Homo sapiens: one gene and its partners. The main gene of each other region encodes a partner of the protein of the gene in region 3 in a complex. Each region holds a gene or a part of one and is shown on either strand. Other genes may lie near its edges.

The links.
Region 1: CDHR5 (region 3) and ANKS4B share a complex: the UniProt entries of both Homo sapiens proteins name them as parts of the IMAC/intermicrovillar adhesion complex.
Region 2: CDHR5 (region 3) and CDHR2 share a complex: the UniProt entries of both Homo sapiens proteins name them as parts of the IMAC/intermicrovillar adhesion complex.
Region 4: CDHR5 (region 3) and MYO7B share a complex: the UniProt entries of both Homo sapiens proteins name them as parts of the IMAC/intermicrovillar adhesion complex.

What each region holds. Positions count from the first base shown.
Region 1 is NC_000016.10:21,236,685-21,243,708, reverse strand, and holds part of ANKS4B (ankyrin repeat and SAM domain-containing protein 4B), read right to left. Parts: intron 1-7,024. UniProt on the Homo sapiens protein: As part of the intermicrovillar adhesion complex/IMAC plays a role in epithelial brush border differentiation, controlling microvilli organization and length. Plays a role in assembly of the complex.
Region 2 is NC_000005.10:176,580,333-176,587,356, reverse strand, and holds part of CDHR2 (cadherin-related family member 2 precursor), read right to left. Parts: intron 6,015-7,024; coding exon 5,775-6,014; intron 3,168-5,774; coding exon 3,098-3,167; intron 2,948-3,097; coding exon 2,342-2,947; intron 1,404-2,341; coding exon 1,332-1,403; intron 565-1,331; coding exon 515-564; intron 1-514. UniProt on the Homo sapiens protein: Intermicrovillar adhesion molecule that forms, via its extracellular domain, calcium-dependent heterophilic complexes with CDHR5 on adjacent microvilli. Thereby, controls the packing of microvilli at the apical membrane of epithelial cells.
Region 3 is NC_000011.10:621,956-628,940, reverse strand, and holds the start of CDHR5 (cadherin-related family member 5 isoform 1 precursor), read left to right. Parts: upstream 1-3,985; 5' UTR 3,986-4,038; coding exon 4,039-4,123; intron 4,124-4,208; coding exon 4,209-4,384; intron 4,385-4,677; coding exon 4,678-4,728; intron 4,729-6,985. Other genes in the region: SCT (secretin preproprotein), read left to right, coding at 1,798-1,868, 1,952-2,053, 2,152-2,244, 2,411-2,510. UniProt on the Homo sapiens protein: Intermicrovillar adhesion molecule that forms, via its extracellular domain, calcium-dependent heterophilic complexes with CDHR2 on adjacent microvilli. Thereby, controls the packing of microvilli at the apical membrane of epithelial cells.
Region 4 is NC_000002.12:127,629,683-127,636,706, reverse strand, and holds part of MYO7B (unconventional myosin-VIIb), read right to left. Parts: coding exon 6,881-7,024; intron 6,333-6,880; exon of another isoform or gene 5,930-6,332; coding exon 5,799-5,929; intron 5,502-5,798; coding exon 5,344-5,501; intron 5,108-5,343; coding exon 4,954-5,107; intron 4,462-4,953; coding exon 4,306-4,461; intron 3,450-4,305; coding exon 3,344-3,449; intron 2,532-3,343; coding exon 2,418-2,531; intron 2,112-2,417; coding exon 2,024-2,111; intron 1,588-2,023; coding exon 1,481-1,587; intron 986-1,480; coding exon 800-985; intron 500-799; coding exon 383-499; intron 163-382; coding exon 79-162; intron 1-78. UniProt on the Homo sapiens protein: Myosins are actin-based motor molecules with ATPase activity. Their highly divergent tails are presumed to bind to membranous compartments, which would be moved relative to actin filaments.

The DNA of each region.
Region 1 (7,024 bases), on a different chromosome or scaffold from region 3:
TCCCAGCTACTCGGGAGGCTGAGGCAGGAGAATGGCGTGAACCCAGGAGGCGGAGCTTGCAGTGAGCTGAGATCACACCACTGCACTCCAGCCCAGGCAACAGAGCAAGACTCCGTCTCAAAAACAAAACAAAACAAAACAAAAAACTTGCAAAACTTCTACTTACAGACACATTTCCAAATTGATGTACAATTTAAATGGAAATATTTTCTACAGACAAGTTGCATGGAGTCCTTTTAAATTCCATACTTGTCATTGTTCACATTTCTTGATAGAACCATTGCATACAACTGCCTGGGTGGAAAACTAGTCCTGTCGTTTGATAATCTGAGTTCAACATTGATGCTCTACGGTTTTCGTGGGCTAAGCTCAGTCTAGTGTTGTTTTTTTCTATTTCCCTTTTCCCCAAAAGAGAAACTCACTGAAGAGATTTTAAAATAACCCATTTTTCCCTTGATTTTTGGTAGATCAGTGCATTTGGGCAATAGTTTTTAAAGCTGGCTTAGCACTACTGTCACTAAGTAGGCAATTTGCTTAAATTACCCTGAGCATCTGTTACATTCCAATTTTTCCTCCTGAAGTTGATTTTTTGTGAAGTTCTCAACTATTCTTTCAAAAACGTTTTTCTGCATAAAAAGAAATATTTGGACTCACTAATAGTCAAAGAAATGCAAATTGAAACAATACTCTGCCTTTTGCCAATCAGATAGGCAACGATTAAAAAGAATAGTAATACTTGGTTTTGGCAGGAGTATGGGGAAAGAAATACTGCTGGAAGAAGCAGAAAGTGGTTCAAATTTCCTGGCACAATACACACAAAAAGCCTTTAAAATGAGGCACTCTTTTGAATCTACAATTCTACATTTAGGAATTTGTCCTAAGGAAATATAAGATCTTTGTGCAAAGATGAATGAGCAGGAATGTTCCTCCCAAACTTACTTATAACAGGAAAAAGAGTGGGTTCAAATTAAGCAACATGAATAGTCAACTGATTACATATATTATGGCATTAATCTGTGTCCATCAGTGGAAGAATGGATAAAGAAAACATGGTGGCTCCACACAATGGAATACTATCCAGTCTTAAGAAACAAACGGATCCTGTCATTTTCGACAACATGGATGAGCCTGGAGGACAGTATGTTAAGTGAAATAAGACAGGCACAGAAAGACGAATACCACATGATCTCACTTAAATGTGGAATCTAAAAAAGTCTCCTAGAGGCTGGGCGCAGTGGCTCATGCCTGTAATCCCAGCACTTCGGGAGGCTGAGGTGGGCAGATCACGAGGTCAAGAGATTGAAACCATCCTGGCCACCATGGTGAAACCCCATCTCTACTGAAAATACAAAAATTAGCTGGGTGTGGTGGCACGTGCCTGTAGTCCCAGCTACTTGGGAGGGCTGAGGCAGGAGAATTGCTTGAATCCGGGAGGCGGAGGTTGCAGTGAGCCAAGATCGTGCCACTTCACTCCAGCCTGGTGACAGAGTGAGACTCCGTCTAAAAGAAAAGTCTCCTAGAAGCAGAAAGTAGAATGGTGGTAACTAGGCAGAGGCAGACTGGGGAGTTGGTCAAAGGATACAAAATTTCAGTGAGACAGGAGGAATAAGTACAAGACATCTATTGTAACACATGATGACTATAGTTTTTTTAAAAATTAGTTATTTATTTTTTATAGAGATGGGGTCTTGCTATGTTGCCCAGGCTAGTCTCGAACTCCTGGCCTCAAGCAATCCTCCTGCCTCAACCTCCCAAAGAGCTGGGATTACAGGCATGAGCCATCATGCTCAGCTCAATGGCTATAGTTAATAACAATACACTGTATATTTGAAAATTGCCTACCAAGTAGATTTTAATGTTCTCATCACAAAAAGTATAGAAGATAACACATAGTCAATTAGCTTGACTTAATTCCACAATGTATACATATTTTTAAAAATCACGTTGTACACCATAAATATATATAATTTTTGTTAATTAATAAAAATAATGAAACTGGCCAGGCACAGTAGCTCACGCCTATAATCCTAGCACTTTGGGAGGCCAAGGTGGGTTGATCACTTGAGGCCAGGAGTTTGAGACCAGCCCGGCCAACATGGTGAAACCTCATCTCTACTAAAACTACAAAAATTAAGTGGGGGTGGTAGCATGTGCCTGTAACCCCAGCTACTCTGGAGACAGGCAGGAGAATTGCTTGAACCTGGGAGGCTGAGGGTGCAGTGAACTGAGATCGCACCACTGCACTCCAGCCTGGATGACAGAGCGAGAGTCCATCTCAAAAACAAACAAACAAACACCATAAAACAGAATACCATGAAGTCATTAAAGATAGTGGCATGCATTATCCCATCCCTAGCAAATTAACACAGGAATGGAAAACCCACTACCGCATATTCTTACTTATGAGTGAGAGCTAAACATTGGGTACTCACAGACGTAAAGATAGCAACAACAGACACGGGGGACTATGAGAGGAGGGCAACGGTTGAAAAACTATTTGGTACCATGCTCACTACCTGGGTGATGGGATCAGTCATACCCCAAACACCAGCACCATGCAGTGTACCCATGCAGCAAACCTGCACACGTACCCTCTAAATCTAAAAGTTGAAACTGGCGTGGTGCAGTGACTCACACCTGTAATCCCAACAATTTGGGAGGCCAAGGCAGGTGGATCGCCTGAAGTCAGGAGTTCGAGACCGGCCTGGCCAACATATAGTGAAACCCTGTCTCTACTAAAAAATACCAAAATTAGCTGGGCATGGTGGCGCATACCTGTAGTTCCAGCTGCTTGGGAAGCTGAGGCAGGAGAATCACTCAAACCTGGGAGGTGGAGGATGCAGTGAGCCAAGATTGTGCCACTGCACTCCAGCCTAGGTGACAGAACAAGACTCTGTCTCTCACAAAAAAAAAAAAGTTGAAATTATTAAAAAAAAAATAAAATAGTGGCGTGGATCTCAACTTTTAAGTGCAAATGGTCCATGATATATTGTTAAATAATTAGAAGGTTTCAGTATAGTTTATATGATTGTCTTTTAAAGGGAGAGAATGTACATGTGTTTGCATGTACTCAAAGGAAAAAGTCTGGAAGGATATGTACCCAAATGTTGATAACTGTAGGAATTGGTATAATTTTTACTTTATCAATTCTATTCAATATGATGTGAAATATTACAATAAGTATGTATTTCTTTAAGAATCAGACCAGCCTGGCCAACATGGTGAAACCTTGTCTCTACTAAAAATACAAAAATTAGCGGGGTGTGGTGGCAGGCACCTGTAGTCTCAGCTATTCCAGAGGCTGAGGCAGGAGAATCACTCGAACCTAGGTGGCGGAGGTTGCAGTGAGCCAAGATCCCATCATTGCACTCCAGGATGGGCGACAGAAGCGAGACTCCATCACAAAAAAAAAAGAATCTGGGGGAAAAAGTCTAGTTTCCATTTTAAAAAATAAAACCAAGAAATTTCATACACTTTAAAGGTAAAATGAATTTTTTTTTGTAATTGGGCCATTATGCTTCCTAGTGCAGGAAAATACATGTAATGATTGTTTTCCATCTTCAAATTTTAAAAACAAAGGAAAATAGTTTTCTAACAAAGCCAGAGTTTTAATATAAATGGTTGCTATAGGATTCGTTGTCTATCAGGTAATGACAGATAAACTCTTAAATCATCAGACTGAAATGGACTTCAGTATTTCAATAGTTGATTAGCTTCTAAATTCAATTTTCAATTTTTTTTAATTTTAGGTTCAGGAGTACATGTGCAGGTTTGTTATATAGGTAAACTCATATCACGAGTGTTTGTTGTAGATAATTTTGTCACCCAGGCACTAAGCCAACATGTTCTCATCATTTAGCTCCCACTTATCAGTAAGAATATGTGGTGTTTGGTTTTCTGTTCCTGCGTTAGCTCGCTAAGAATAATGGCCTCCATCTCCACCCATGTTCCCACAAAATATGTGATCTCATTCTTTTTCGACTGCATACTATTCCATGCTGTATATGTACCACATTTCCTTTATCCAATCTGTCATTGATGGACATTTAGGCTGATTCCATGTCTTTGCTATTGTGACAGTGCTGCAATGAACACTCACATGCATGTGTTTGTTTGTTTGTTTGTTTTTTGAGATGGAGTCTTGCTGTTCCCCAGGCTGGAGTGCAGTGGCGTGATCTTGGCTCACTGCAACCTTCTCCTTGCGGGTTCAAGCAATTTTTGTGTCTCAGCCTCCTGAGGAGCTGGAATTACAGGTGTGTGCCACCACGCCCAGTTAATTTTTTGTGTTTTTCTTTTAGTAGAGATGAGGTTTCACCATGTTGATCAGGCTGGTCTTGAACTCCTGACCTCAAATGACCCACCCGCCTCGGCCTCCCAAAGTGCTAGGATTACAGGCATGATCCAGGCATGTATCTTTATTGTGGAAGGATTCATATTCCTTTGGGTATATACCCAGTAATGAGATTGCTGGCTCGAATGGTAGTTCTGCTTTTAGCTCTTGGAGCAATTGTCACACTGCTTTCCACAATGGTTGAACTAATTTACACTCCCACCAACAGTGTATAAGTGTTCGCTTTTCTCCTCAACCTCACCAGCATCTGTTATTTTTTGATGTTATAATAGCCATTCTGACTGATGTGAGATGGTAATTTTCTTCCCTTTTCAGCTTCCTTAAATCTAATTGGAAATTTGACCTCACACTGGTTCCCAGGATTAGCTATGGTCAAAAAGGCACCTCACAAGACTTCTGTTCTTTTTTTTAGCCTACATCAGGCCTGCTCAACACAGCAGATCCCAGATGCTTTTGAGGGCAATGAAACAAATCTGAGATGTACTAGATCCCGTGAGAAGAAAGGAGTTGAGAAGGAAGGACTAGGAAAAACAAGGTTAGAAGAATATTTGCACCCATAGCCAGTGTTTAATAAATATTAATATAAGCAAATTGGGGGGACTGGATATTTATATTACATTGAAAGAAATGATGTTACCATGTCAACTTAGTGGAGAAAGAGATAGACTATAACAACTAATTGTGTTGGAATAAATGAGTAGCCACTTGGAGAATGCAGAGTTAGATCATAATTCAGATCTTAAATTATATAAAGTATTTAAAATAACAAATGAAACTAAAAATAGCACTAAAGGATCAGTCAGTATTGAGGCATGACCTCAAAGTTAGAATCACACAACAAAGATTGATAGACTTATACGTATATATATATATATATTTATGTTTACATTTATATTTAAAAATCTGTTGTCAAAAATATAAATTGTGTATTGTAAAACAGTTGTAACCTATATGACAAAGAGTTGATATTGTTAACTTTCAAAAGTGTTTTTATCAATCAAGGAGAAATGGTTGAAAACCCCAATATAAATGGGGAATAAAGTTATAAATACACAGTTCACAAAAGTGGCAATCCAATGGCCAATTCTTTTTAAGCATAAAAAGAATTTTCAACCTCATCGGCAACCAAAGAAAAGAACATTAAAGCCACACTGGTGTATCATTTTGTTTTGTTTTGTTTTGTTTTTTGAGACAGAGTCTCACTCTGTTGCCCAGGCTGGAGTGCAGTTGCCTGATCTCGGCTCACTGCAACCTCCACCACCCGGATTCAAGGGATTCAGGAGCAATTTGTGCCTCAGCCTCCTGAGTAGCTGGGATTATAGGCGTGCACCACCACACCATGCTAATTTTGTATTTTTAGTAGAGATGGGGTTTCACCATGTTGGCCAGGCTGGCCTCGAACTCCTGGCCTCAAGTGATCTGCCCGCCTTGGCTTCCCAAAGTGCTGGGATTACAGGAGTGAGCCACCACGCCCAGCCTAATATATCATTTTGGACCTATCATGTTGGCCAAAATGGGTACTCACTTTCTGAAGGACAGCATGTCCATTTACACACACACAAAACTATTTAAATTGCACATATGCTGCTATGGTTTGAATGTGTCTCCTCCAGAATTCATGTTGAAACTTAATCGTCAATGTAACAGCGTTAAGCAGTGTGGCCTTTAGGAGACGATTGAGTCATGAAGACTCTACCCTCATGAATGGGGTTAGCACCCTTATAAAAGGACTTGACACAGGGAATTTGCCTTTTTTTTTTTTTTGCCCCTTCCTTCCCTTCCTCCATGTGAGGACACAGCCATAGGATGCAACAACAAGGCACCATCTTGGAAGCGGAGACAGGGCTGTCATCAGACACCAGTCCTGCTGGTGCCTTGATCTTGGATGTCTCTGCTGCCAGAGCTGTAAGAAATAAATTTCTGGTTTTTATAAATTACCTAATCTAAGGTATTTTGTTATAGCAGTACAAATGGACTAACACAAATGCAAATTGATCCAGAAATTTCACTTTGGAGAATTTATTCTCAAGAAAATGTGGCCAGGCCCGGTGGCTCACACCTGTAATCCCAACACTTTGGGAGGCCGAGGTGGGCAAATCACCTGAGGTCAGGAGTTCGAGACCAGCCTGGCCAACATGGTGAAACCCTGTCCCTACTAAAAATACAAAAATTAGCCCGGCGTGGTAGTGCACGCCTGTAGACCCAGCTACTTAGGAGGCTGAGGCAGGAAAATTGCTCAAACCCGAGAGGTGGAGGTTGCAGTGAGCCAAGATCACGCTACTGCACTCCAGCCTGAGTGACAGAGAGACTCCATCTCAAAAAAACACAAAAGACAATGTCAGCAAAGATTTATGTACAAGGATAGTCATCATAGCCCTATTCAAACTAGGGAAAACAAACTATGTGTCCAAAAGAGGGGTTGGCTAAGAAATGTATTTGTTGACTAGAGTCCTACAAAGTCCCTGAAATTTATAGAAGAATATTAAAATGTATTTGTATGCACTATAGTATATATAGAGAGAACTATATACATCTTAGTAGCATGGCATTATAGGACATTTTTTCTTCATGTTTTGTGTGCGTCTGTATGGTTTAATTTTCTGGGTTCAGCTCATGTTACTTTTGTAATTAAAGACTAGCAGAACCAGGCTGAGTGCTGTGGCTCACACCTGT
Region 2 (7,024 bases), on a different chromosome or scaffold from region 3:
CCTGCCTCAGCCTCCCAAGTAGCTGGGATTACAGGCATGCACCACCACACCCAGCTAATTTTGTATTTTTTAGTAGAGATGGGGTTTCTGCATGTTGGTCAGGCTGGTCGCAGACTCCCGACCTCAGGTGATCCACCTGCCTTGGCCTCCCAAAGTGCTGGGATTACAGGCTTGAGCCACCGTGCCCAGCTGGCTCTGAGAATTATTTAATGACAAGGCACTGGCTTAATTTACAATTAGCTATGAGTTCTCTGTATTACTCAAGAATTCTGGTATAGTAAGAAATATCTGGACTGCAAGTGGTATTTACGGTCATGACATTTTTATGAATGCTACATTTATCACAGTGAAGTTTGATTACATTGATTAGACAGGTGTTGGTTTCCCTTCTGGGGTTTTCTTTTTCATGTGTTGGAGCCCATATATTTTCTTTCTACCATGGAAGGCCTGAAGGCCTCAGCCCTGTGTCCCCTGGGGCTCATATGACCAACAAAGGCTGGAGCCAAGAACTTACCCGGACAGAAGCCACCTCCCGGTTGGGCAGCACGAGTTCAGGGATGATCACTGCAGGTGTGAACGGGAACGGGGTCAGCGGGGTCGGGACACTGCCCACCTGGACCAAGGCTGGTCACGAGCCCAGCTCAGGGCTCATCCCCCTAAACCTGCCCTCAACCTCTCTACCAAAAGAGACCCCTATTACAGCCACCACTGGGCCAGTAGTTAGCAAGTCATCCACCTCCCATTGTCACAGGTGAGGTCACAGGCCCACAGGACCATGCGGAAATGGAGGCCCAGAGAGGGAAGTCCTGGCCCAGGGCCAGACATTAGGTCGGACAGAGCTGGAATGAAAACTCCAGTGTTGGCTGGGCATGGTGGCTCATGCCTATAATCCCAGCACTTTGGGAGGCCAAGGCGAGCAGATCACTTGAGGCCAGGAGTTCAAGACCAGTCTGGCCAACACAATGAAACCCTGTCTCTACTAAAAATACAAAAATTAGCCAGGTGTGGTGGCGCATGCCTGTAGCCCCAGCTACTCTGGAGGCTAAGGCATGAGAATTGCTTGAACCTGGGAGGCGGAGGTTGCAGTGAGCTGAGATCGTACCATTGCGCTCCAGCCTGGGCGACAGAGCAAGACTCCGTCTCAAGAAAAAAAGGAAAGAAAAAAGAAAACTCCAATGTCCTCTCCTATTGCAGCCCTAGGAAGATGCAGGATTAGAGGCCTTCCCCCCTTTCTAAAGGCTCCCCCTGGGGTCCAAGGAGGGTCTGTCGGGGTTGCTCAAAGGCGGCCTTATGGAGCAGGGGTATGGTGTGTGAATGGGGTTGCTGCTTACCAAAAGTCTTATTCTCAGGCAGAAAATAGGGTGCATTGTCATTCACGTCCTCAATGGTAATGAGGAGGCTTCCTAGGAGACAAGGTCAGCTGGCTTTGGCTCTGGGCAAAAGCTTGACCCAAAGAGCCTGGGCCTCAACCCTGTGCCCCACAGCCTCAACCCCATGCCCCGCAGCCTCAACCCCGTGCCCCGCAGCCTCAACCCTGTGCCCCGCAGCCTCAACCCCGTGCCCCGCAGCCTCAACCCCATGCCCCGCAGCTTCTCTCCCATGTGTTCCCCCATGCTCAGTCCCCTTCCCTGCTCCTGACCCAGAATGCCTGATCGGTCTTCTCTGGCCTGTGTGGGTGGGAGTATCATCCCAGACCTCAGAGCAGATAAGCAGCTTGTCAAAGTCACACAGCAATAGTGGTGGGCCAGGATTGGGCCCAGCCTAGGTAGATCTCACCTATGACATTATACTGACACATTCTAACTATATAAGCTGGTTGTTTAAATACCCACTTTCTGCCTCAGTTTCCTCATCTATAAAATTGGATAGGGAACACCTACCCCATGGGTTGTGTGGAAGTGGAAAAATTCTTACAAGGTGCCTGGTGTAGTTCTTGGCTGTCATAAGGACTCAATATATGCTAGTTGTTAATGTGATTATTATTGCTATTTGGTGTCAGAAGTGGGATACAAGCACACATCTAGCTCTGCAGTGTTATCTTTCTTTCACAGCATCTTGTAAAATAATGGCATTAATTTGATGCTACTGCATGCCAGGCACTGCAATAAATGCCATACATCCATATTCTCATTGAATCTTCACAGCCCACCCCACTGCCCAACTCCACTGGACAGATGGGGAAACTGAAGCTTGGAGAGGGTTTGGGACTTTCCCAGTATTTGCAGCTGGAAAGGGCTGGAGCCAAGATCTGAGCCCAGACCTTGTGAGTTCCAGCCCAGGGCTCCTTCCCGCGGCCCCTAAGCTATGGCCTGCCAAGCCCTGCAAGGACAGGCTGCCTTACCATTGTTGCTGTAGGCCTGGAAGCCGGGGTCCGTGGCTAGGTCACAGGCCCGCACAACCAGCGTGACCAGGTCACAGGCCTCGTAGTCGATGGCTTTGCTCTGGTTGATGTACACAGAGCCGTTGGCCGCCACTGAGAACCAGCCCCAGCATAGGCTGCCCACATCGACCCCGGCCTTGGTGCAGAGAATGTTCACAAGCTGTATCTCCAGCTGGGCACTGGTGTCCACATCCGAGGCAACCACCACAGCCACCTGGCCGTGCTGTGAGCCATTCTCAGCCACACGGATGCCCCGGAGTGAGGCTACATCCAGGGTGGGGGGATTGTCGTTCACGTCTTTCACATTCACGCAGACGTCTACTATGGTCTCACCCCCCTGGGGGTCTGGGTTCTCAGCACTCACTGTCAAGTTGAAGACGGGCTGTGTCTCGTAATCCAGGCTCACGTCCGGGGGCAGCCGGAGGTAGCCCTCAGCCCACCCAGCCCCCAGCACCAAGCCTCGGATCATGAAGTAGTTGGCACCACTCCCCGACAGGCTGAAGCTGATGCGGTTGTTGGCTTCCGTCTGGTCCGCGTCCCAGGCCTTCACCACGCCCACTAGCACTCCTGTGGACAAGGGGCAGAGCTCAGAAGGACTCCTGACCCCGCCATCGGAAGCCTCCTCTGCCCTTGCCTCTCTTGGAACTCGAGGTCCACCCTGACAAAGCCACACTGGGTCCCAGCCGCAGTGTCTCTCCTGGCCCAGGGAGCACATACCTGGATCCTCCTCCTTCACCGTAAAGTTGTAGCTGGACTGATTGAAGATGGGCAGGTTATCATTGATGTCCTGCAGTCAGAGACAGGTCTGAGTCCCCGGGATCCAATCTCACCCTCCCCAGAGCCAATCCGAGAAACCAATAATCCCTGTGCTCCAAGGCATGGACTCTACTAGTGCCTCAGACCTCACTGCCCACTTCCCAGATGAGGAGACAGGCTCTGAGAGGAGGGAACTTGCCCAGGTCACACACCCGGGGTTCAGGGACCTACAGTGGGACCTTGGCCTTACACATCCATCCTCAGGAAGCCCTGCTTGCTTCCTGTTTCTCTGACCACAGCTCAGGACTTGTTCTAGACCCTGCTTTCTAGAAGCACAGTTCTGGGTCCCCACCTGCGACCCTGCCTGGCCCAGCTTGACTCCCATCTCTCGGATTTATTGTGTTGGCACCAATACCATTATATGTCCACAAAGGCTCCAAGGCCCACACTTTCCCTTGTCCCCTCCTACCCCTGTCCCTCCTGCACACAACTGAGCCCACAACACCAGCTCTGTGCTCAGTCAGAGCTGGGCTCCGGGGACCTGCAGAAGCTTAGACCTGCTCCTGCCTCAGACACCAGCTGTTTTTGGCTCTCACCTCTGTGGCCAGCCCTAGCCCACTGGGCACAGCTGGAGCCCTGCAACTATTGTCACAGCCTGGAGGTGACTCTGCCCTCCCCTATGTCTCCTAACACTGGCATGTGCTTGGGGGATGCCCTGAGCACTCCAGCCCTTCCCAGGTTTGTGGGTCACATAACAGGTGTTTGTTTTTCTGAATAACCCTAGAATGAACATTTGGAAGACAACATTCTTGCACCTTAGCTAGATGTCTTTTCTGCTGCTAATTTCCCAGCGATGACATCATTGGCTCCACGCACAAGACCAGCTGCATTCTCAAGGTCACCCTAACTCACAGGAGTGGATAAGAGCACTGAGTCACATCTTGCTCCACCTCTGCCTCATGTGTGACCTTGACCTCTCTGGACCTCAGTGTCCTCATCTGCAAAATGGGGTAGTAGTCCCCACTAATAGGGCAATTGTGAGGACGGCTCACAGGGGTGAAGAAACCTGTTCACTCAGGAAATGAAGTTCTCTCTTTGCAGCCCTCCCACCCTAAGGACAACCAGCAAGTCCTCATTCTGCTTCGTTTTCTTCATTTCTGAGGTCTCACTCTCTGACCCTTGTGTGAAAATGGCACATCCCAGTCCAGGGGACACAGGGCTGCTATGTGCAGTGGTGCAGGCTGTGCACTGCACAACCCTATGGGGTGCCATCCACATCACAGACACGGCAGAGGTGCACATTTGTCACAATACTGTTCCAGAGGAAGGTGCCTTGTGGGCTGGTGGCAGCCTTAGAACCAGACTGATTGAAGTCAAAACCCAATTTTGTGACCCCCAGGCAAGGTACTGAACCTCTCTGTGCCTCAGTTTCTTTTTTTGAGACAGGGTCTTGCTCTGTCTCACAGGCTGGATTGCAGTGGCATGATCATAGCTCACCGCAGCCTCAACCTCCTGGGCTGAAATGATCCACCTGCCTCAGCCTTCCAAGTAGCTGGGACTTCAGGTACATGCCACCATGCCTGGCTAATTTTTTATTTTAGTAGAGATGGGGTCTCGCTATGTTGCCCAGCCCAGTCTCAAACTCCTGGGCTCAAGCAATCCTCTCACCTTGGCCTCCCAAAGTACTGAGGTTTTTGGCATGAGCCACAGCAACTAGGCCCGCCTCAGTTGCTCAATCAATAAAACGGTAATAAACCGGGCTCAGTGACTTATGCCTGTAATCCCAGCATTTTGTGAGGCTGAGTTGAGAGGGTCGCTTGAGGCCAACAGTTCAAAATTGGCCTGGACAATAAGTGAGACTCTGATTCTATGAAAAATAAATTTTAAAAATTAGCCAAATTAGCCAGGCATGGTGGCACGCATCTTTAGTCTTAGCTACTTAGGAGGCCAAGGCGGGTGGATCGCTTGAGCTCGGGAGTTCAAGACCAGCCTGGGCAACATGGAAAAACCCCATCTCTACAAAAATAAAAAAATTAACCAGGCATGGTGGCATATGCCTATAGTCCCAACTACTCAGGAGGCTGAGGCAGGAGGATCGCTTGAGCCTGGGAGGTTGAGTCTGCAGTGAGCCATGATGGCACTATTGCACTGCAGCCTGGGTGACAAAGGGAGACCCTGTCTCAAAAATAAATAAATCAATAGATAAATAAATAAAAACAAAATGGTAATAACCATCCCAACCTTGGCGGATGCCCTGATGTGCAATAGACACCAGCAATGCTGATTTTCACCCCTTCCCTTTGCTTTTCAATGGTGGCAGGGAGACAGGAGGGTTTCAGGTGGGACTTTATGAGTGACAATTAGAGCTGATATTCACTGATACTGTCTATAGGTCAGGCACTCTACCAAGCACTTTCCATTCATTAACTCACTTAATCTTTAACCTTTTTCACCCCCGTTTTATAGATGAGGAGCCTGAGTGCCTAGGGAGGTTGAGTAATTGCCTGGGGCCATACGAGTGAGCGGGATTGTAACCCAGGCAGGCTGGCTGCAGAGGGCAGAAGTGTGACTCAAGCTGGAGGGGCTGGCTATCGGCTTGGGAGGCCCCCAGGCCCATCCTGGCTAAGCGAGGCCTTACCTCCACAGTGATGGTGACATTGACTTTGGTGCCGAGGACAGGCTCGCCGCAGTCAGACACAAGCACTGTCAGCACAATGCGGCCCTCCAGGGCGGGGTCGATGGCCTCTCTGTCCAGGGGCCCCAGGTTTCTGAGGAGCCCTGTGTCAGGGTCCAAGGAGAAGTTGTGGCTGTAGGGGCCAGGCAGCAGGTTGAAGAGCAGACGGCTGTTGTTGGTGCCCGGCTCATCATTGTCGTGGGCCTGTGCACGTAAGCAGGGGTTGGTCATCGGCCATCGGCATTCCCAGCCCCCAGCCCCTCCGATGCAGCCGGACCCTCCTCTCCAGCGCTGGCCCACGCAGGCAGTCATCAGGCCTGGAGCCCCTGGGCCCATCTCCCAGCCCCAGTTTCCCATCTAAGAGGCTCAGGTCAGCAGTTTGCAAGAGCTTCTGAGATCTTCAGCACTGAGGCCATTCTTTCATCTCACAAACGGCCACTGTGGACCTACGTGCCCAGCCCCGTTCCAGGTGCAAAGAAAGAATAGAGCCATCATCAAGACAGGCCCTTTTGCTACTGATATTCTAGCAGGAAGGGGGATATGGGGGCAGGAAATTGTAGACAAAGAAAGTTTTAAACTCATAAGTGTGAAGTCCAGCAAGATTCTCATTTTCCCATAATGACTACTTCAGTGCTATATACATATTTTTTCTTTTTTCTTTTTTCTTTCATACAGTTTCGCTCTTGTTGCCCAGGCTGGAGTGCAATGGTGCGATCTCTCTTGCTCACTGCAAACTCCTTCTCCTGGGTTCAAGTGATTCTCCTGCCTCAGCCTCCTAAGTAGCTGGGATTACAGGCACCCACCACCACACCAGGCTAATTTTTTGTATTTTTTAGTAGAGATGGGGTTTCACCATGTTGGCCAGGCTGGTCTTGAACTCCTAACCTCAGGTGATCCACCTGCCTCAGCTTCCCAAAGTGCTGGGATTACATACAGGCGTGAGCCACCACGTCTGGCCCTTCTTTTGTTTTGTTTTGTTTTCTTTTTTTTCTTTCTTTCTTTCTTTTTTTTTTTTTTTGAGGTGGAGTCTCACTCTGTTGCCCAGAGTGGAGTGCAGTGCCATGATCTCAGCTCACTGCAGCTTCCAATTCCTGGATTCAAGTGATTCTCCTGCCTCAGCCTCCCAAGTAGCTGGGATTACAGGCATGCACCACCACACCCAGCTAATTTTTGTAATTTTAGTAGAGATGGGGTTTCACTATGTTGGCCAGGCT
Region 3 (6,985 bases):
AAAGAAAGAAAGAAAGAAAGAAAGAAAGAAAGAAAGAAAGAAAAGCAAGCAAGCCAGCAAGCCAGCCAGCCAGCCAGCCCCACATTGCTGGCGGGGCTGTGAAATGATGCAAACGCTGGGGAAAATATTGTGGCTGATTTAACAGACGGATACAGTGCATGACTCGCAACCACAGCAGAACATCAAAGGGCTTGACGGCCATTTCTCCGTCCACTCCATGATGTATAAATGGCTCACAGACACTTGAGAACATGCTCCACATCGCTGGCCATTAGGGAGATGCCAATCAAAACCGCAGCGAGACACCACGTCGCACCCACCGGCATCGTTAGTACGCGACAAACAAAAAGCCACAAAGTAGCAAGTGTTGGCGAGGACAAGAACCGTGTCCCTGCTGCGCTGCTGGGAAGACAGTTTGGCGTTTCCTCAGAATATTTAACACATAATTACTCTGTCACCCAGCAATTCCCTCATAACTATACACCAAGAACGCTTGAAAACGGGATCGGGAAGCGCCGTTTGCACACCCACGTTCACAGCAGCGTTACTCGCCGTCGCCCCAAAGGGGAGGCAGCCCAGGTGTCCATCAAGATGCCCACAGATGAGCGGACGCGGTCGATGCGGTCCCTGCACACAGCGGGACACAGTTCCCCACAAAAGGGAAGGAGATTCCCACACAGGCCAGGCCGCGGCGGCGAAGGCGGAGGATGCTGCGCTGAGAATCCAGCCGGTCTCCAAAGGACAAATCCCGTGAGGCTCCCCCTGCGCGCAGTCCCTGGAAGCGCTGAATCCACAGACAGAAAGTGGACGGGGCGCCGGGGCTGAGGAGGGGAGGGGGCGTTTGATGGGGACAGAGCTTCATTCTGGGAGGACAGGAGAGTCTGAGAACGGATTTTGGGAGGACGGGAGCGTCTGTGAACGGATTTTGGGAGGACGGGAGCGTCTGTGAACGGATTTTGGGAGGACGGGAGCGTCTGTGAACAGATTTTGAGAGGACGGGAGAGTCTGAGAACGGATTTTGGGAGGACGGAAGAGTCTGAGAATGGATTTTTGGAGGACGGAAGAGTCTGAGAACGGATTTTGGGAGGACGGGAGCGTCTGTGAACGATTTTGGGAGGACGGGAGCGTCTGTGAACGATTTTGGGAGGACGGGAGCGTCTGTGAACGATTTTGGGAGGACGGGAGCGTCTGTGAACGGATTTTGGGAGGACGGGAGCGTCTGTGAACGGATTTTGGGAGGACGGGAGCGTCTGTGAACGGATTTTGGGAGGACGGGAAAGTCTGAGAACGGATGGTGGGGATGGATGCACCGAATGATCCTGAATCGCGCACTTCAAAGCAGATAAAATGGCAACACCGGCCCCCCAACAGTCACGCCACGCTGAAGCTGGAGACGAACTCGCCCCAGCAAGGTGCTCCAGGGGCCTCCGGAACTCCGGCCGCAGCCCCTTCCCCGGGGCCCCCCAGTCCCCCCCCAAACCCTCCCCCAAGCCCTCCGGCCCCTCCGCCCCCGCAGGCTCCGAGGCTTCGCGGTGCGGTTCCCTCTGCGGGTCCCAGGCCCGCGCTCCGTTCGCCCCCCAGGCCGGGACGTCCCCCTCCCCCAGCCGGCCGAGGGGCGCCAGCGCGGCGGAGGGGGCGGGAGGCCGGGCCGGGGCGACAGCTGGGGGGGCGGCCCTGACCTTCCCGGGATCGCTGGGCGCGGCCGGGCCGTCCCCTTTCCGGGCGCCGCCATAAAGGGGCCTTGCGGGGGCCCGGGGCCGTGGCCGCAGCGCTCAGCTCCTGCGCCCCGACCCCGCCATGGCCCCCCGGCCCCTCCTGCTGCTGCTGCTGCTCCTCGGGGGCTCCGCCGCGCGCCCCGCGCCCCCCAGGTGAGCCGCCCGCCAGGCCCGCCCGCCCCCCGGGCCCCACCCGCCCCCAGTGCGCCCTGACCCCGACCCCCGACCGCCCGCAGGGCCCGGCGACACTCAGACGGGACGTTCACCAGCGAGCTCAGCCGCCTGCGGGAGGGCGCGCGGCTCCAGCGGCTGCTACAGGGCCTGGTGGGGAAGCGCAGGTGAGGCCGGGTGGGGTGGGGGGTCCTGGCGTGGTGCCCCAGCAGCAACGCGCGACCCCCCAGCTCCAGGACTAACTCTGTTTTGGGGCGGGGGGCAGCGAGCAGGACGCAGAGAACAGCATGGCCTGGACCAGGCTCAGCGCGGGTCTGCTCTGCCCGTCAGGGTCCAACATGCCCATCCTGCAGGCCTGGTGAGCACCCGCCCCACCGCAGACCCCACTCCAGACCCCACCCCAGACCCCTCCTTCTGTCCTGGCCTCCCCGGGTCAGCGCTGGTGGCCACTGGAGGCCCAATTCCAGCAGCGGGGCCGGGGTCTCCAGCCCCAGCCCTCAGACCCTCACGTGCTGTCTCTGCAGGATGCCCCTGGACGGGACCTGGTCTCCCTGGCTGCCCCCTGGGCCTATGGTTTCAGAACCAGCTGGCGCTGCTGCAGAAGGAACCTTGCGGCCCAGATGAGGAAGGAACCCCCTCACCACCTGCCCGGCCCAGGAGCGCAGCTGCATTTGGGGTGGGGGGCAGGATGGGGGAGAGGGGGAGGGGTGGTACTTGGCACCAATAAAGGAGGAATCAGACCCAGACGCTGGGAGTTGTCTGTGTCCACTCAGTGTAATCGAGGCAACCCCTGTGTAGCGGGGCTGAGGGATGGATGGAGGCCCATCCACCCAGGAGGGACTGACCACACCCAGCTGCCCTTTACACCTGCAGGCACGGCGGCCCCTCATCCTTATCTCTGGCATCAGGGCCACCTCCTGTACCTCGACTAAGTACTGCAGGGCCCCGCCCCACCCCTTGTCATCCATTAGGAAACATTCTGGGGCTCGGGGGATCCCGGACACCCTCTCAGCTCCTGCCCGGGGGCCCATGTGGTCAGTGTTTCTGTAAGGGGTAGTGGGGAGGGTGTGAAGGGGCCAGGGGGGCTCAGGCGGGCAGGAAGAGGGGAGGGTGGAGGTGTCACCTGGGGTGCCAGGAATCCACTCTGGCGTGAGGACTCCGGACCCTCTGTCTCGTGTGGCCTCGGACCAGTGGCTTGACCCCTCAGAGCCTGTGGAGCACGGAGCGTGCAGGGCTTGAAGGCGACCATGAGGGCACCGTGCAGGGTTAGGACACTGAGCCCAGCCCCAGCCATGAGAGGCCAGAAGCTTCGGCGCACAGGCCTGGAGGAGGAGAACTCCACCTACCCCTCACGACAGCCACTTCCTCGCCCCGACCCTACCCAGTGGCCTCTCCCTAGAGCTGGGGGCTTCTGGGGGGCCAATGAAAAGAGCAGGGCAAGTGTCGAGTCTCACCTCACCCCCTCTGTCGGGCACCAGGGCCCCCCAGGAACTCCCAGCTGCCCCTCACAGCCCCGCCTTAGCCTCAGTCACTAAGGCCCTGTCCAGCCCCGCCCTGAGAAGCCGACTTGTCTCTGGGGCAGGCAGGGGTGTCCCCAGGACACAGTGAGGAGAGCCTTTTCCTTCAGAACCTGCTGTCAGGCAGGGAGGGAGGTGCTCCCTGGGGAACACCCGGGTTCTGAGCCTCAAGGGGTGGCCTTAGGAACTTTGCCTGAGGGAGATCTTAGGGGAGGAGCCAAGCCAGGGCAGCCTGGGCTAGGGAGGCAGGTTCCAGACACCCCGACACCAAGGGCCGAGCCCCCGCCCCCAGCCCCCAGCTTCTCTCCCACACCCTAGCCCTGCCCCTGCCCTGCCCCTACCCCCACGGCACCCATGAGCCGCTCTCCAGTCCCTTCTGCCCTGTGCCTCGGTGCCTGTGACCTGAGCCCCCTGGTTGACCCCTGCACTCAGTCCAACTTGGGCCAAACGACTGCCCCTCCTTCTGGCAGTGGGCTGGACCAGCCGGCCAGCGGGAGCCCCCTTGGCAGAAGCCGGTCGTAAAGGATCATAAACTGGGCGGCGTCTGGCTGGGGCGAAGGTCGCTGAGGTAGGAACTGCGCCAGTCCTAGACGCCAGACCCGCTCAGACCCTCCTGCCAGGTGACAGCCGCCAAGATGGGGTCTTGGGCCCTGCTGTGGCCTCCCCTGCTGTTCACCGGGCTGCTCGTCCGACCCCCGGGGACCATGGCCCAGGCCCAGTGTATGTGCGGGCAGGGGTAGGTGGGGCACGGGCGGCGGGGAGCCAGGGGCTGGGAGGCACTGATCCCTCCTCTGCAACCTTACAGACTGCTCTGTGAACAAGGACATCTTTGAAGTAGAGGAGAACACAAATGTCACCGAGCCGCTGGTGGACATCCACGTCCCGGAGGGCCAGGAGGTGACCCTCGGAGCCTTGTCCACCCCCTTTGCATTTCGGATCCAGGGAAACCAGCTGTTTCTCAACGTGACTCCTGATTACGAGGTGTGGGCGGCAGGCGGGCGGGATATGGGGGTCCCGGGAGAAGGGCACCTGCATCCTCAGGCCACACCTCCCTTGGGGGCCTAGGAGTTCTATGCCTGCGGGCATCCACTGACACCCATGCTTGGTGGTGCCTGCCCTAGAAGGCTGGGCCATTTCGGGATGAAGCTGCCTGGGCCCACACCCTCAGCACTGACCACTGATGATGGGGACCCTGGGCCAGCGCCTGCCCACTTGGCCTCAGTCTCCCCACCTGTGGGGCAGGACGGTGACTGCAGACCTGTCTACATCCACAGGAGAAGTCACTGCTTGAGGCTCAGCTGCTGTGTCAGAGCGGAGGCACATTGGTGAGTCCCCGCCCCGCTCTCCCCGCCCCACCCGGCCACCTCTGCTGGGCTCTGCCCTGCCGGTCCAGGACCAGTCTTTGATGACGTCAGCTAGGGTGTGGTTTCAAATTCCACCCCCCCGAGGGTGATGCCCACATTTCCTCCAGTCCAGACTCTGCCCTGAGCTGTGGAGTCCCCGTCACTGACCCCTTGTCCAGCAGACACCCCATCCAGTGTGCCCAAGACTCCCACCCACTCCCTCAACCATCCACAAGGGAGGCACCTTTATCCTGCCAGTCACGGGGACCACCTTGGTTCCCACTCGCCCTCCCTCCCCACGTGTCCCCCACAGCCCCCCACTGGTAAATCTGTTGGCTGTGCCCCAGCTCGACCCAGAAATCCAGAGTCTGTCCACCTCCAGTCCCATCAGGGCCGGGACACCAGCACTCATTTTGGGAAACTTCCAGCTGGCCCACCGGCTTCCCTGTTGCCCTTTGCTGGCCCCAGTCCACTCCACGTGGCAGAACAGCCCCTGTGGATGTTGTAAACCAAGGCTGCCCAGCCCACCCCAGCCCTCCACGGCTCCTTTCTCACCGAGTCAAACCCAGACATACTGTGCAGAGGCTCCACTGCAGCCTCAGGGCTCCCGCCAGGCACGCCCCTCCCTCACCGGCTCAGGACTGCAGTCTTCAGAGAAATCCCAACCACCCTATGCCCTGTTGCATCCCAGCCCCGCTCCCCCAACATCCTGCTTCTTGACCGGCGGCATTTTTTTCGGCTTTATTAAGGAAAATTGCAGAATCCTGAGGCCAGCACAGGCCCCCTCACCTACCAGCACACAGCAGGCTCTGTGCCCTCCATGCACCACGGCACGTCACCTGCACATATCTTGGGATATGTCTCTGAAAGAGAGAGACTCTTTTTTGAGACAGAGTCTCACTCTGTCACCCAGGCTGGCGTGCAGTGGAGCGATCTCGGCTCACTGCAACTTCCGCCTCCCGGGTCCAAGCGATTCTCCTGCCTCAGCCTCTTGAGTAGCTGGGATTACAAGCATGCGCCACCACGGCCGGCTAATTTTTGTATTTTTAGTAGCGACGGGGTTTCTCCATGTTGGTCAGGCTGGTCTCAAACTCCTGACCTCAGGTGATCTGCCCGCCTCGGCCTCCCAAAGTGCTGGGATTACAGGTGTGAGCCACCGTGCCCGGCTGACAATCCAGTTTCTTCACAAATAAATCTCCAGGAAAAAAGATGGGAGAAAGGGAAAGGTACAGATGAACAGAAACTCAGGAGAATTACCAACCAGGTCCATAATGTGGGCCCTGATTCAAACAAACAATTGTTAAAAAACCCTTCAGAGACCACGGGGAATGTGGCATCCTGGACATTTGAGGTAGAAAGTGACCGCTTTTCCCAGGTGTGACAACGACATTGTGGTTATGTTCTAAAAAGAAGAGTCCTGGCTGGGCGCCGTGGCTCACACCTGGAATCCCAGCACTTTGGGAGGCCGAGGCGGGTAGATCACCTGAGGTCAAGAGTTCGAGACCAATGTGGCCAAAATGGTGAAACCCCGTCTCTACTAAAAATACAAAAATTAGCTGGGCATGGTGGCAGGCACCTGTAATCCCAGCACTTTGGGAGGCCGAGGTGGGCAGAGGCCGAGGCAGGAGAATCGCTTGAACCTGGGAGGCAGAGGTTGCAGTGAGCCGAGATCACACCACTGTACTCCAGCCTGGGTGACGACAGAGCGAGACTGTATCCAAAAAAACCCAAAAACCAAAAAACAAAAACAAAAACCAAAAAAAAAAAAAAACAGAGAAAAGAAAATGGATTGTCTTTCCTCACCTGAGATTCTGCTGGCTGCATCCCCAAGTACCTGCATTATTTTTCTGTGGAGCACCTGCCACCTCCTGGCTTTATAAAGTCCTTTTTGTCTGTTGTTATAAGTCCTGCCAGGACAGGCACCACCAGGCAGAGATTTGTCTCTTGTGATCTCTGAATCCCAACGCCTAGAGCTGTGCAGCCCCTGTAGCCCCCCAACAACTGAATGAGCGAGTGGACGGATGGCCGTCGAGGGGTGCACCCCACTCACGGCGGGGACGGGTGGCCGTTGAGGGGTGCACCTCACTCACGGCGGGGACGGGTGGCCGTTGAGGGGTGCACCTCACTCACAGCAGGGACGGGTGGCCGTCGAGGGGTGCACCTCACTTAGGGCGGGGACAGGTGGCCGTTGAGGGGTGCACCTCACTCACGGTGGGGACGGATAGCCGTCGAGGGGTGC
Region 4 (7,024 bases), on a different chromosome or scaffold from region 3:
GCAGAGATGACTGCAGCCCCACCTGCACAGGTCCCTGGACCTGGTGGCCCCCAGCCCCTCCGGAGGCCCAGCAGCTACCTTGGTCTTGGGGTGGATGAGCAGAACCCCATGTCGGTTGATGGCGATGAGGATGACGTCCGGGTAGGAAGGCTCCGAGGTTTGCTGGGAGGGAGGGACACGGCGGTCATAGTCCAGCCCGGGAGGCCAGGCTGCACCTCCCAGGAGCTCATCTAGGCCACACGCACATACACACATACACCCACGCCCTCCAGCCTCACGGCCAGCCCCACCCAAGATGTGTGCTGGTTGACGCTGGGCCTGCTGGGGCTGGGCTGAGCGGAGCCTGCTTGGGTAGGAGGCCCTGGCGTGGGGCAAGGTTTACCTTCACCTCGAAGAAGGCGGATCCGAAGGTGGGCCACCGGCAGATCCACTTCAGGAAGGCCACCTTGGCCTCCTCCACTGTCTTGTCCTTATGCTTGTCATAGGCTAGAAGGATGCTCTGGGGGACAGGAGGGCCAGTAAGGACTTGGGTGCCCAGAGGCCCTCCAAAGCCCTGGTGGGGGCAGCACCTGCCTACCCCAGGGCTAGTACGGTGGGGAGGGGAGGGGAGGAATGCAGCATGGGACAGTCTCGGTGCTGTGGATGGCATAGGAAGGCGTGGTGTGTGCAGAGCCAGCCCACCCTCCACACCACCCATGTGCACCCATGTGATCTTGGAGCCCAGGCAGGGCATGGCACTGGTGCAGGGGCCCAGGGAGGAGCAGCAGCACAAGAACCCTTCCCCAGCCCGACCAGGGACCTTTTTCCACTCCTCCGAGGACATCAGGCGTGTGAGGTTCTCAGGCACCAGTTCCCTCAGGATCTTGGGGACACTAGCCAGCTGGGACCGGTCGTTGTTGAACTGGGCCTTGTAGATGAGGCCCGCCAGGTGGATGGCATCCTCCCGCGAACACTTGTGGAATCCGCGCAGGTACTTGGGCAGCTCCTGGGTGATGGACACACTGGGCATGCTGGGTCTCCAGCTGCGGCCCACCCGCCCCCAACCTCTTTCCCGCTCAGATGGTGGGGAACTGGGGCTTAGCCCACTCCATCCAGGACGGACTGAGCAGGGTAGAGAGTTTCAGGCCAGGGGAATGACCCTGAGTCAGGGCAGGGCCCCCTGACATCTGCGTGGAGGTGATGGCCTGCTCCACCCATGTGGTTGGCCCTGCAGGCCACGGCCACTGCTCCATGGGTCACAGGACCCTCTGTCCCACCCTCTCCAAGTCATGCTGCAGGTGCCAGTGCAGTCACTGTCCCCAAACATTGCTGCCCTCTGCTCCTGGTTCCAGAGCCCTCAGGGGCTTGGTCTGCCTACCACATGGGCTGGTACCCAGGGCTGAGGCTGGCCCTGCCCTGGCCTGCTGGCTTCTACAGCCTCAGAACAGGTGTGGGAAGATGGGGGTGGCCCCAGTGCCCACCAGGGCAGCCTGCCCGGTACCTGGTGGTAATGGAGTATGGTGTCTGCATTCACATCCTTCCCTGGAGATATGTTGAGCCACAATTTCCGCATGAAGTACACCTGGTAGGGGAGCGTCACGGGGGCCCCTGGGCGAGGGCCAGCAGTGGGCACCAAGCCTGTCCCAGCAGGTACACCAGCCCTGACCCCCTGCCACCCCCCACACTGCGCCTGCCACCTCCCTGCCTCGAAAGCCCCCACGCTTCTTCCTCCCCAGTCCCCACATTTTCCTTCAATATTAGTGTAGAGGCTGCCTTCTCCAGGAACATTCCTGGACTCGCACTCCCAGCCCATGAGGGTCATGCCCCTCAGCCCTGGGGCATCCTTCATCACTCCAAGGTGCAGCCACCTGTTTCTGCCTGAGCTGGCCCTCACCGCCGGGCCCCAGGGCCTGGTTGTTCCCACAACCCAGGGACACACGGGAACGAATGGATGGATGAATGGGCATGGGCCGCACAGAGGCCGCCAGTGCCCCCTCGACCCACCCAGCCACGCCCTCCCCCAGCTCCACAGAGGCCTCCTCACCTTCTTTCTGGGGCTTGTTCTTCTTCACCCAGTCAGACACCTCCCTCAAGGAATCAAAGAAGAAGTCTCCCTCCTTCTGGCTGATGACCTGGGGAAGGGGAAGGTACAGGGAAGTTGGGTGGCTTCCGGGGACTGTCCTCCTGAGAACCTGCTGGGTTCTGGTCCAGTGGCCGCCTACGGCCTGGGTGCTGCGCTGGAGTCGGCTGTGCGTGGGCTATTGGCGTGTGGAGCTGGCTCTGCTCCAGGACCCCACCTACCTCTGTCCCAGCAGCCCTGGCCGTGCAGCCTGGTCCAGCATGGGTGCCCCTGGTAGGCTGAGGCCCCCACAGGCAGCACCTAGGGCCTCGCTCACTGCCCGTCCGCCCACCGTCTGCCCAGCCCCAGCCCGGCCCACCTTGTCTGAAATCTTGATGAAGAGGCTGCAGCCCTCCCAGGAGGCCAGCTGCAGCCTGGTGGCAATGCTGTCACACACATCCCGCACCCGTGTGTTGGCAACCACCTCCAGCATCTGGACAGAGAGGCAGCTGGTGAGGCCCGGGGCCTGGCTAGGGGCCAGTACAGCCCAGGATGAGCCTTCCTAGCCTGGCACTTTTGCTCCTTCATGAAACTTGGGTTGGATGTGGTCTGCCCTGAGCAGGGCAAGCCTCCCTTCCAGAACCCTGGCCAGAGGTTCATGTTGTTTAGTCCCAGCATTCGCTGTCCTGGGGCCCTGCAGGCCTGGCCTTTTGACTCGCCTTGAGAGCCCAGCAGCCAGACTGTGGGAACTTCCTGTTACCGGGACCCGAATATCAAGGCCAAAAAGACCATTGTGCTGTTGGAGAGGGCGCGAGGCGACACTGCCCACTTTGGCCTCTCAGCCCGCTTGTCTTTGCTGCCCCTGATCAAGGCCTCTGTGTCACGGTGGGGTCCTGGTGGTCTCCTACCTGCCCCCTGGCCCCTTTGTTCCCCCAGCAGCCATGGCAGGCTCTGTGCACAAGGCACACACAGTGGGAATACCTGCTCTCCTGCACCCCAGATGGTCAGAAGCCCCTAGGGGCCCCCAAGTCCTGGGACTCACCCTTGCTGCCCACCCCTCTGTCCTCTCCTGTGTCCTGGGCCTGGATCCCCCAACTCATACCTTGGGACTGGCCTGACTTCCAAAGCACCCAAGGGCAGGTGGGGCCTGCATCCCATGGGGAGAGGGCGGGAGACTGGTTAGGATGGGACAGCCCTAGAAAAGGCTCTCTGGGGTTACCAAGGAGCAGGCTGGGCCAGGAAGGAGGATGCCCCATGGCCTCTGGAGGCCTGAGACTTGCCGTGCAGACCAGAGCAGGGCCTCACCTCACTGGTGTCATTGGGGAAGTAGATCTTGTGGCAGATGCGGGAGACGTTCTGCTCTGCGGCCTCCACCTCCACCTGGTGCGGGGGCTGCTTCCGGGGCCCCGTCCTGAGGGGGACAGCGTGTGCTGCAGGTGCCACCCCCACCCTCATCCTCACCCATGCCCCAGCCCCGATGTGGGCCCTAAACCATGTGCCAGAAACAAAAGAAAACCCCAGTGACCATCACTGGGGTGGTTCCAGCCCCTCGCATGTCCTGGGGGCTGCCCCTGGCTCCACGCGGCCTCAGAGGTAGTGATGGTGCAGCTGTGCCTGAAAGCCTGGGGCACACACGGGGAAGGGCCAGGCCAGGGGCTCCCGGGAAGGCGCCGGCAGGAAAGGCTGGCAGTATTCTTATTCTCGCACAACAGGGGCATCGGGCAGGGGCCAGGGACTCTGGCAGGGCCTCTATGGGGCGCCCACCTCTCTCTGTGACCACGGCTGCCACTGAAATTATGGCCACTCCTACAGTCAACCTGCCCTCCTCACGGCCACAGGAGGCCAAGCCAGAGGAGGCAGGAGGGGTGGGGGAGAGCAAAGACGGCCAAGGAAGAGCTTCACGGCTGTGGGCGGATGAGGGAGGCCGCATGGACTTGGAAGGATGGGCCTCTGACCTCAGCCTTGAGGGCCTGGGCTGGGGCATCCAGGTTTCTCTCTATCCCTCAGGCAGTGCCTCTGTGCCACTGCTGGGCAGTGGTGGGGCAGGGGAGCTGGTGGCTATGACTGAGCCTTCTCTTGACCCTCCTGGGCCTCACCCTCCACCCTCTTCTCTGGCAGCTCGGGGCCCAATCCTGCCTGCCAAGCTGACACTGGCTTCTGGAGAGTCCTCCCAGGACCATGAGCTCCTGGAAGGCTGGCCAGGCCCCACAGCATCCCAGGTCTGCGGGCCCAGGGCCAATGCTGGGGGCTGGAGGCACTGGGCTCACCTCAGGACCTTCTGGATTCGGCGGCTGCAGTCGGGGGCCAGCAGCTTCCCCCTCCGAGTGTCTATAAACTTCTGGGCATGGGGCAGCAGCCCCTTGCTGGGCGGGAAGAGGCCCGTGCACAGCCACAGCAGCTGCCAGCCCCGCTCTTCGCTGTGCCTGAAGGGTAGCACTTGTCAGCCGGGAAAGGCCCCTCAGGGGGCCCTGGCCAGGCAGGCACCTTGGGGAGCAGGGACGGATGTGAGAGCTGCCTGGGGTCTAGAGGGCCCGAGGGGGAGGGCACCTGCCAGGCTGCACCATGCCAGCTGTGCCAGGCTGCCCGATGCCACGGGCTTTCACACCCTCAAGATGGGGGCGGGTGGGCATTGCACCCATTTTGTGGAAGACGACACTGAAGCTCAGAGAGGTCATGGCCTGCCAGGTCACACACAGAGGGTGGGAGTGGGCAGGGCCATCCTCTCCTGCTCTGACCACCCCTAGGACATCAGCAGAGCAGACCAAGGGCCCAACCCTTCCCACTGCTGAGGCAGGAGCCCAGGCAGGGGTTCTGCCGCCACCAGCTGCGGTGTCCTCTCTGAGCCTCGGTCTGGCCTCAGGGGCCGGGATGAGGACTGAGGGTGCCCGCGTGGGCTGGCCGCCGCCCCAGCAGACCTGTTGGAGTTGTGCGTCAGCTGCTTCAGGATCTGGCAGTAGACCTCGTCCTGGAGGGCCGGGTGCTGCAGGGCCAGTGTGAAGATCTGGTCGGTGAGCTCCAGGGTGGGCCAGGCCTGCCGAGAAGGGTAGTCGCCCATGTACCGGAGGATGGGTGTGGCTGTCAAGGAGCACAGTGCTGGGGCAGCCCCACGCTGACACAGACTGGGGATAGACGCTGACCCCGACCCCGGCCCTGCGGTGAGCCATGTGTGGGCTCTGTCCCGCCACTCCAGGTTTCTCAGATCTCCTGGGCTCTCCTGCCCTAGAGCACAGCTGTAGGGCCAGGATGTGCTGGGTGCCTCTGCCCTGGCATTGACGAGGTGCAGGCAGGCTGGTGGGGAAGGATATCGACAAAGATCTGGCAGGCGATGTCCCAGAGGTCGACGTTGGCGTGGACTCGCTTGAGCAGCGGCTGTCGCAGCGGCTCGCAGGAATAGGCCCACAGGTGGCCACGGGCACGGGCCAGGGGCAGCACGGCCATGCTCACCATGTCCTTCTCTGGAGCCCTGTGAGGTTAGAGGCTGGTGTGAGGCCTGCCCTGTGGCCTTCTCTGTCCCACGCTTCTCTGTCCTCTGACACCCCTGAGTGGCTGTGGGAGGGCCAGAGCACCCCACCCTGCCGCAAGCCCCTCCTGACTCCCCTGGCCTGGGAAGGCCAGGCAGGCTCCACATGGGTGGCGTGGCCTCTCTGCAGCTCTCAGTGGGTGCAATGAGGTGGAGCGGGGCTGGGAGCAGGGGGTGCAATGAGGTGAGGTGGGGCTGGGAGGTGGGGGTGCAATGAGGCGGAGCGGGGCTGGGGGGCACCTGAAGAACTCATAGGAGAACTCCTCCAGGGTGTGCAGCTTTTCCTTGGGTGGCTCCTCAGGACGTGGCTCTGTGAACTGCCCCTCCTGAGCCGCCAGCTTCCTCTTCTCTGGTGACATGGCAAGCAAGCTCTGAAGGGGGCACAGGCCTGTGGGTGCCCAGGAGCCACCGCCCATGAGGCCCTTCCTGCAGGCTCCTCCCGGCCTGGCAGCCTCAGTGACTTGGGAGGGGTCAGGCCCAGGGCTGAACAGGCCAGGGCTTACCCACACCCCTGTCACCTGCCGTGTGACCCAGGACCATGACTCTACCTCTTGGTGCCTGTCTCCTTTCCCTTGGGAGGGTGAGTGCCAATGGCTGTGGCACCCACATCACCCGTTCTGGGGGCCACGGCACTCTGGGTTTCTCAGACCCCCAGCTCCCCAGCTCCCCTTCTCCATGGGGCCACCTCTCACCCCAGCCCTGCCTGCCTAGTCTGCCACCAACTTCAGGCCTCAGCACAAATGTCCCTCCCTCGGGGATGCCTTCCCAGACAGGGTAAGTTCCCCACCCTATTATTTGTTCCTCTCCTTGGTGGCACTTTGCACAGTTGCCATCCATGTGTCATTATCTGCCCAAATGTCTGCCCTGAGGGTGGAGCTGCTATTATGCCCAGACTCGTACCACAGGCACAGGGCACATACTCAGCACTCAGTATGTACATGTTGCAATGCCTGCCATTCCTGCCTCCGGAGAGGCTGGTCTTGGGGGCTGGGGTGGGTGGTTCCCTTGTGCAGGGAGAGACTTGAGTCCCCCTGGGTCAGAGTGTAAATGAGGCAGAGAAAGATTGGGTTTGTCCCCCGGACACCCCCATGATGGAAGAGGGAGGGAACACCCATTTATTGAGGACCTACTAAGTACCAAGAGCTGGGCTGGCACTGCACACACACCTTGCCGCAGGAATGGTGGGGGCTGCCCGGGTGGCCCTCCTGGCCTCTGCTAGGTGGGCTGCAGGCCCTGAGCTAGGCCTCCCAACTAGGCATCCCAGGACTGCTCCACCCTGACCTCGGGTACCCAGGCTGAGGACAGGGGAGCGTGCCAGTTACCAGCAGCTGTGCCGAGGGCTTAGTGACCGTGGGGATGGTGTAGAGGCAGGCCATGGGCACCAGCCCCGTCTTGCCTGTCCTGTCGTTCTGGCCGAGGGTCCAGTTCTCAGAGGCCAGCAGCCCCTGCTTCTTTGTGAGGACCAA